2 linked regions of the Homo sapiens genome follow. The protein of the gene in region 1 interacts with the protein of each later gene in a pairwise test. Each region holds a gene or a part of one and is shown on either strand. Other genes may lie near its edges. The genes, in order: GABPA and PINX1.

Region 1 (4,035 bases):
ATCATAATTAAAGCTGCCATTTTTGAGAGTTGATACAGATTGTATACATACAAGTCCCCTCAAAATTACAGGTAAATTGTTAGAGTTAATAATTAAGATGTCAGTTCCCCCCCAGATTGATCTAAGTTTCAGTGCAGCAACTTAGTTTAATTTGAAAAATCAAACTAAGTTTTTCATAGAACTTGAGAAGATAATTGTAAAATTTACATGGGACTATAAAGTACCATGGTAGTCAGGACACCTGAAGATTAGCAAAGTGGAAAGACTTGTCCCACAGGATATTGAGACTGACTCTAAAGTTACAGTAATAAGACAGTTATGCTATTTTCTCAAGACAAATAGGCCATACAGTAGAATAGGGAGCCAAAATAGAACCAGGAATATGTAAGCATTTGATTTAAAGAAATGGCAGTGGGGAGAAAACATATGAGGAAACGACCTGCTTTTCAATAATCAGTGCTGGGATAATTTACTCTCCATCTCTGGGGAAAAGTAAAAGTTGACCTCTTGCTTATGCCGTACCAAAAATCAATTCCATGTAGCTTGTAGCTCTACATGTAAAAAGTAAAATAGAAAAGGATCTAGAAATACTTTCATAACTTCTGGTGGTAGGGAGACATTTAAACAGAATCAAAAGGACTAATTCTAAAGGGAAAGATCAATAAACTGGACTATATTTAAATTAGGAATTTCTGTTCGTTGAAAGCCTTATTAAGAGAGCCACACATGTCGGACAGAAGTATCTAGAATATCTAACCAATTCTTACAAATCAATTTTTTAATGGGCAAGAGACTTGAATAGACACCTCAGGCTAGAGATTATCCAAATGGCCAATGAATATATGCAAAGGTGTACGGCCTCATTAGTATTCAGAGTAATGCAATTGAAAACCATAATTAAATGGTACAACTCACCCCCTAGAGTGGCTACAATTTAAAAGATTGCCAGAACTAAGCTCTGTTGAGGATATGGAGCAATGGGAATGCTTCTACCCTTTTGATAGGAATGTAAATTGTAACAGTTGCTCCCCTAAGCAACTGTTTCATACACATCAAACAGAGATGTACTTCTATGCCCATACACATGTTCATAGCAGATTATTTATAACATCCAAACCCCAGAAACAACCAGATATCTATCAACAGTAGAGTGAATGAATCATTTATGGTATATTCATACAAGAATACCTTGCATTCTTGAAAACTAAGCTCCTGCTACAAACAATGACCAGTGAACCTCACAAACATAATGTTCAGTGACAGAATCCAGACCCAAAAGACCAAATTCTGTATGATTACATTTATTTAGTAAAGTTCAAAAAACAGGAAAATTAAATTTCAGTATTTAGGGATGCATGTTTGGGTGATAAAAATATAAAGAAAAAGCAGTCAAATTACTATCATGATACAGGCTTGTGTTTACCTTTTAGAGCCAGGATTTGGGGAGTGATTGGGAGGGGACATAAAGGGGATTCTAGATGCTGGCAGTGTTCTGTTTCTTGACCTGAGTGATACTTAACAGGTGAGTGAATGTTCACTTTGTAATAAATCACTGAACTGTTCACTTCTGTGTCCTTTTGTTTGTGTGATATATTTGCAATTAAAAAGTTTAAAAAAATACAAGTTTAAAAAAAAAGAGGGAAGAAAAGAAATCATATCCATGAAATACAGGTATTGTGTATCTTTCATTTTAGGGAGGCAACAAGTGGAATAAATGCTACTATATACAGTTGTGTGATGCATCTACTAGATCAAAAGAAGTATTCAGTAAAATTCAAATTTATGTGTGTATATTCTTTTTTATCACCTCTTACCAAGAAATATGATTATGCCAACTCCATTTTCCTCCTAGAATTATAAAACCTCTTTCCTTTTCCATTTTCCTTTTTTTCCCCACGTATAGTCTTACATATTAATGTAGAAATTTTTTAAAGCAATTGATATGCCTATAGCATTTTTAACTGGATGGCAAGGAATTGTTGGTTTATGAGCTGAAATCCAAATTCTGTACTAATGTAATTGACATAAATGGAAACTACAAGACTGCCCAATGTGTTATATCTCTTACTGGGAAATCAAACATAACTATTTTTCTTTTGCTATTCTGGAATTAGGGAAAGATGACAATTTCCTGTATATAGGTCAGTCCTTTCATTAATAGACTCTTGATTAAGCCAAGTGACTTTTATCCTGCTAAATGTGATAGTTTATATCTGGTACTTTTGCAAATAGTTGTTTCTTTTATAATAGCCCTTTGTCAGTGGGCAGTGCAATTTTAAAATAAGGGCTTTGCAATCTGCCAGTCGTGGAAAGAGCTTGACTTGCCTCTTTTTCCTGTTGTTGGAATTAGCAATACATAGTGTGTGTTTAAATAAAGTCTGTTTTCCAAAGGAAACATAAATCCAGCTCCATTTGCATCTCTATAGAATGCAGCAGTAAACTAGATTTCTAGAATGATTGCCGGAACTCTGCTTGTGTACGTTTAGAAACATTGTCTCTTTGCAATGTCCTTTACCTGTTTTTCTGTATCCTCTGTTTCTTTTAGACCTTTTCCTTAGACTTAAAGCTCCCTATTGGGCTTGGATAATTTATCTGAAATTTGGAAAGCGTTTACATAGTGAAATAATAAAGATGAAGACATGACTTCATCATATAGGATTCTTTACAAGACAGAAAAGAAGTGGAATATATGTATTAATTTTTTTTATATTATCGATTTTTATTAACATAGCTTATATTTTGTAGAGGGCTGTGTGCCAGTCATTGTATACTAAGCACTTTACAAAGATTATCCCTTTAATCCTCAACAATGATATGAGGGTATAAGCACTGTTAACCTCACTTTATAGATGAGGAATAAAAGCTTTGAGAAAATATGACTCCTGTGGTCTCAAAAATGTTAGGTTTTGAATCTTGGCTTTCTGACTCCAAAGCTCTTGTTCTTAGGCTCTTCTACTGCTCTCAAGGTTTTTTGTTTTGTTTAATAATTATTTTTAAATCAATGTTTTATTCTAATTGTTGAAAATATGTTTTGAAAGTTTAATGTATAGAGTTTTGGAGTAGTGAGCATTGAAATTTTAGTAAATAATGTTGGGATGTTTCATTTGATAGTAGCATTAAATATTCTACATAGCTTCAATATTAATTGCTATTGTGGCGGATGCAGTACTCTACTAGGCTTCTGCTTATGGAATAGTCTGTAAATTATTGTAAGAAGTCTCATTTTTTCTGAAGTCTCTAATTTTTTTTTCTCTTTTTGAAGATATTATTACGATGGGGACATGATTTGTAAAGTTCAAGGCAAGAGATTTGTGTACAAGTTTGTCTGTGACTTGAAGACTCTTATTGGATACAGTGCAGCGGAGTTGAACCGTTTGGTCACAGAATGTGAACAGAAGAAACTTGCAAAGATGCAGCTCCATGGAATTGCCCAGCCAGTCACAGCAGTAGCTCTGGCTACTGCTTCTCTGCAAACGGAAAAGGATAATTGAGCCCCAGGACATTCTGAGACTCCAAAGTCTTTCTTAAAATGTTTAGAGCAAGTATAGCTCTTACCTTTATTACTGAATTTGAATCTTCTTTTATTTCTAGGCTGTACAGTCTGATGCATGATTTTTTTATAAATATTTCATACTCTTGTGAATTTGGATCTTTTTACTTTGAGCATATATTTTAGAATATGTGTATGTTAAAGGATCTCCACAATGTCTGCAGTGTGAAGGCAGGTTCATTGTGGAATAGTTTAACAGTCAGGAAGGCTAAACTGGTCAGTATTAATGTGTAGCCCTACCAAAAATAGCCAGTAGTATCTGAAAATGAAAAATAAATGAAGTATCTCTAGGAAACAGTCTGGCTTAACTATTTTTGAAAATATAACTGTTTCCCCTCTCTGCTGCTTTAGATGTTGCTTTACATAGAACCAGAAAATGGAATTTCTCAGCTAAAGCATGTGTGCCTGTTTCATCTAATCAAGCAGAGCTAAAATGTTCATACCGAATAAATTTATATTAATAAATTACTAAACTAAGAGTATCA
Region 2 (3,500 bases), on another chromosome or scaffold:
GTTTCTCCATGTTGGTCAGGCTGGTCTCAAACTCCCGACCTCAGGTGATCCGCCCGCCTCAGCCTCCCAAAGTGCTGGTATTACACCGTGCCCAGCCAAGCTTACATTCTTATCTGTGTTTCTACTGAGTTCAACTGTGATCGTAAATATCAAGATGTTTTCTGTGTATAATTAGTAAGGAATAGTGTCCTTGAACTTTACTACTTCATAGATCCTGCATTTCCTAATATGAGTCATTCAGTATTTTCAGAAAACATTTTCCTTATCTTTTTCTTCTGCTAATAAATTATTGCCCTTCATATTAGGACCACACACAGAACTGTTAGGTTATTTCAAAATCATGATCCTATGGATAAGGAAAACTGTCCAAGTTATACATTCCAACAAAAAGTCCAATCTGGTTAGAAAAAATACCAACAAAGCACCTTTCCCTTCACACTGTTGGGCTCACTTCCACACACGTCACTGCAATAAACCTTCCTATGGTTAGATGTGTGCTGTGATTTTACCAGGTAATTACCAGCATATTCTGCTAGCTACCTCCAAGCAGGACTGTGTCTTATACCTCTGCAGATCCTCACACCTAAACTAGTACCCAGCACACAGCTCAATAAATGTTTGCTGAACTCAAGTCTAATTCATTATTTCACTCCACAAAATTCTTTCAATCTACCAAATATCTTTTGATTATTCACACATGACACACAAGGAATAGACTGTTCATAAACAAGAATGTTTATAAAAATGCTTGCAGATTACAACAAAATCCAATTAAAAAATGGGCAAAGTACTTAGACACTTCTTCAAAGAAGATATAAAAATGGCCAATAAGCGATGAAAAGATGCTTAACATCAGTCATTAGGGAAATGGAAATCCAAATCACAATGAGACATCATCTCACACCCATTAGGATGGCTATTATCAAAATTATAAAAGATAATTACTGGTTAGGATATGGAGAAATTGGAACTCTTATGCACTGTTGATGTAGCCACTACAGAAAACAGTACGGCAGCTCCTCAAAAAGTTAAAAATAGAACTACTATATGATCCAGCAATCCACTCCCAGGCATTACCCAAAGGAAAGGAAATCAGCATGTTGCAGAGGTACCTGCAAACCCACGTTCACTGCAGCACTATTCACAACAGCCAAGATATGGAATCAACCTAAGTGTCCACCAACACATGAACTGGGAAACATGTGGTGCATACACACCACGGAATACTATTTACCCTTACGAAAGAATGAGAGTTTTTCATTTGAGGCAACATGGTTGAGTTTGGAGGACATTAAGTGAAATAAGCCAGGCACAGATAAATATCACATATTCTCGTTCATATGGAAAAGCTAAAAGAGTTGAGCTCATAAAAGTAGACAGCAGAATAGTGGTTATTAGAGCTGCGTAAGGAAAACAGCTATGTAGGAACAGCTAAAGATTGGCTAATGGATATAAAAGTCCCACTACATAAGAGGAAAAAGCTCTAGTGTTCTATAGCACTGTAGGGTGACTATAATAAATAATATTTTATTTTATATTTTCAAATAGCTAGAAGAACAGATTTTAAATGCTCCCAACACAAATAATAAATGTCTGAAGTGATATATATGCTAATTACGTTGATGAACATAACACATGTGTACATTACAAATTGTGCACAGGTATTGACATATCACACTATACTCAATAAATATGTATAATTATGTGTCAACTAAAAATAATAAAAGCAAAAAACAAAAAGTAGATAAACATATTTGCATTGAGAACTTATGTCATCTGATTTCCCTACCTGTGGTTTCCTGCCCATGGCAAGTGTTCAGTTCGGCCAGAAGCTGGTTAAAATCATCCTGATGGGCAATCCAGTTGTCCTGAAAATATCAAAGAAATGAACGAGAGGTAAGCCTGTAGTTTACTTACACTGACTGAGATGATACATTTTGGAATCAAGGAAATCCAGTGGTTAATTAAGAAATTTTAAATGTTCCATCAAAATACTATTTGATAAATTTAAGTGGATTCAAGAAATAATATAAAGTTAAAATGCTCTTTATCCAGGTCAATATTAAAAAGGGGCTTCCTGGAAGCTTAAGGCCTGATTTCAAATGTGAATGACTTATCGATCAAGTCAATATATAGTAAATAATCAACAGGCAACCTGTGTGCTAAATGTTAAAGTAAAACATAATGAAATGACTATTTTTTTCTCACTAGGGGAAATTCCATAGTTGAAAGGACAAGAACCATGCGGGACAAAAAAATGCTCTTCTTTGCTTGGTAGAATTAAAATCTTCTAATGACTTGCATCAACTCCAATTTTACAAAACTCTGAGGAAGGGGAGGAGGAAGAACCTTAAGTCCCCTGAATCGATGAGTTCCCATTTGTAAGGTGGTTACCTAATAAGTTTATTATAAAAAAATGAACCTGGCTTTTATAAGAGAATGAAGATCTCCCAAACCAGTGGGAAGCAGGGTTTCAGTGTACGAATCTGCCTTACTCACATTCTTAGCAATTTTTAAGAATGCTTAAGGTAAAGGAATATGAAATAGGTTTACTGGGCAATGCTTCTTCTAAGAAAATAAGTATATCTGTGTTATCTATCCCTCAACAACTACATTTGAAATCAACTTTATATAAACTCTTTCTTTAGTGGCTAAAAATTTTAGCTCCGCCAATCCACTACTCAGAGATACGGAACTAACCAAAGTAATTCAATTTACCTAAAGTAATTTCCCAGATTCCCTACCAGATTATGTTGGCTGCAAAAACTTAGAAACAAAACTTTTCAGTTTAGATCCTTTCCAAAAGGGAACAATGATACTAAAAATAAAAAGCGCGGTAGGCCACTGACTCTGAGTTATAGTGCCATGCATTCAAAGCGTCAGTGTTCAAGAGGAAACGTGAATAAAAAGAAGTGCTGCACCAATGGTCAGAAGCAGATGAACCAATCAACTTTCAGATTTACAAGACTGAAGCCAATTATGCAAAGACACCCAGGAGGCACACACTGCTGCTCACTTCATTATTGATGGTAGCTCCGAGTCCCAGGTGGTTATTTTTCACTTGAACTTTAATATGATCTGTGGCTCCTTGCTCCTGAGCCCCTAAACCCTGTGGAGATTAAACACAGAGAGTTAGAACATTCCTCTCACTGATACTCAGAAGCAGAGCACTGCTACAAAACTCACAGATGCCTACGGCAGGTGTTCTGAGTTGATGATTCTCTCCATTAAATACTTTCACAAAGCAACATGGGGGAGGACTCTAAGTCCTCTGCATCAATTAGCACTCATCTGTAAGATTTTCCAGGTAAGGAAAGATCAAGTGCAAAGACCCGAAGGTGGGAAAAAACTCAGTGTACTGGGAAACCTCAGAGGCACCCAGGGTGGCTTCTGCAAATTAAGGAATGAAGGAAGTAGGATGACGGAGGGGCTAGATCTCACATAACCTACGGGAGGAATTTGGATTTTATTTTAAAGACAATGGAAAACCACTGGTCTTT

The links.
Region 2: the proteins of GABPA (region 1) and PINX1 interact in a two-hybrid assay, tested with the Homo sapiens proteins (one large-scale study listed by BioGRID and IntAct).

The regions. Positions count from the first base shown.
Region 1 is NC_000021.9:25,765,742-25,769,776, forward strand, and holds part of GABPA (GA-binding protein alpha chain), read left to right. Parts: intron 1-3,262; coding exon 3,263-3,491; 3' UTR 3,492-4,035.
Region 2 is NC_000008.11:10,829,876-10,833,375, forward strand, and holds part of PINX1 (PIN2/TERF1-interacting telomerase inhibitor 1), read right to left. Parts: intron 3,110-3,500; coding exon 3,017-3,109; intron 1,869-3,016; coding exon 1,790-1,868; intron 1-1,789. UniProt on the Homo sapiens protein: Microtubule-binding protein essential for faithful chromosome segregation. Mediates TRF1 and TERT accumulation in nucleolus and enhances TRF1 binding to telomeres. Inhibits telomerase activity. May inhibit cell proliferation and act as tumor suppressor.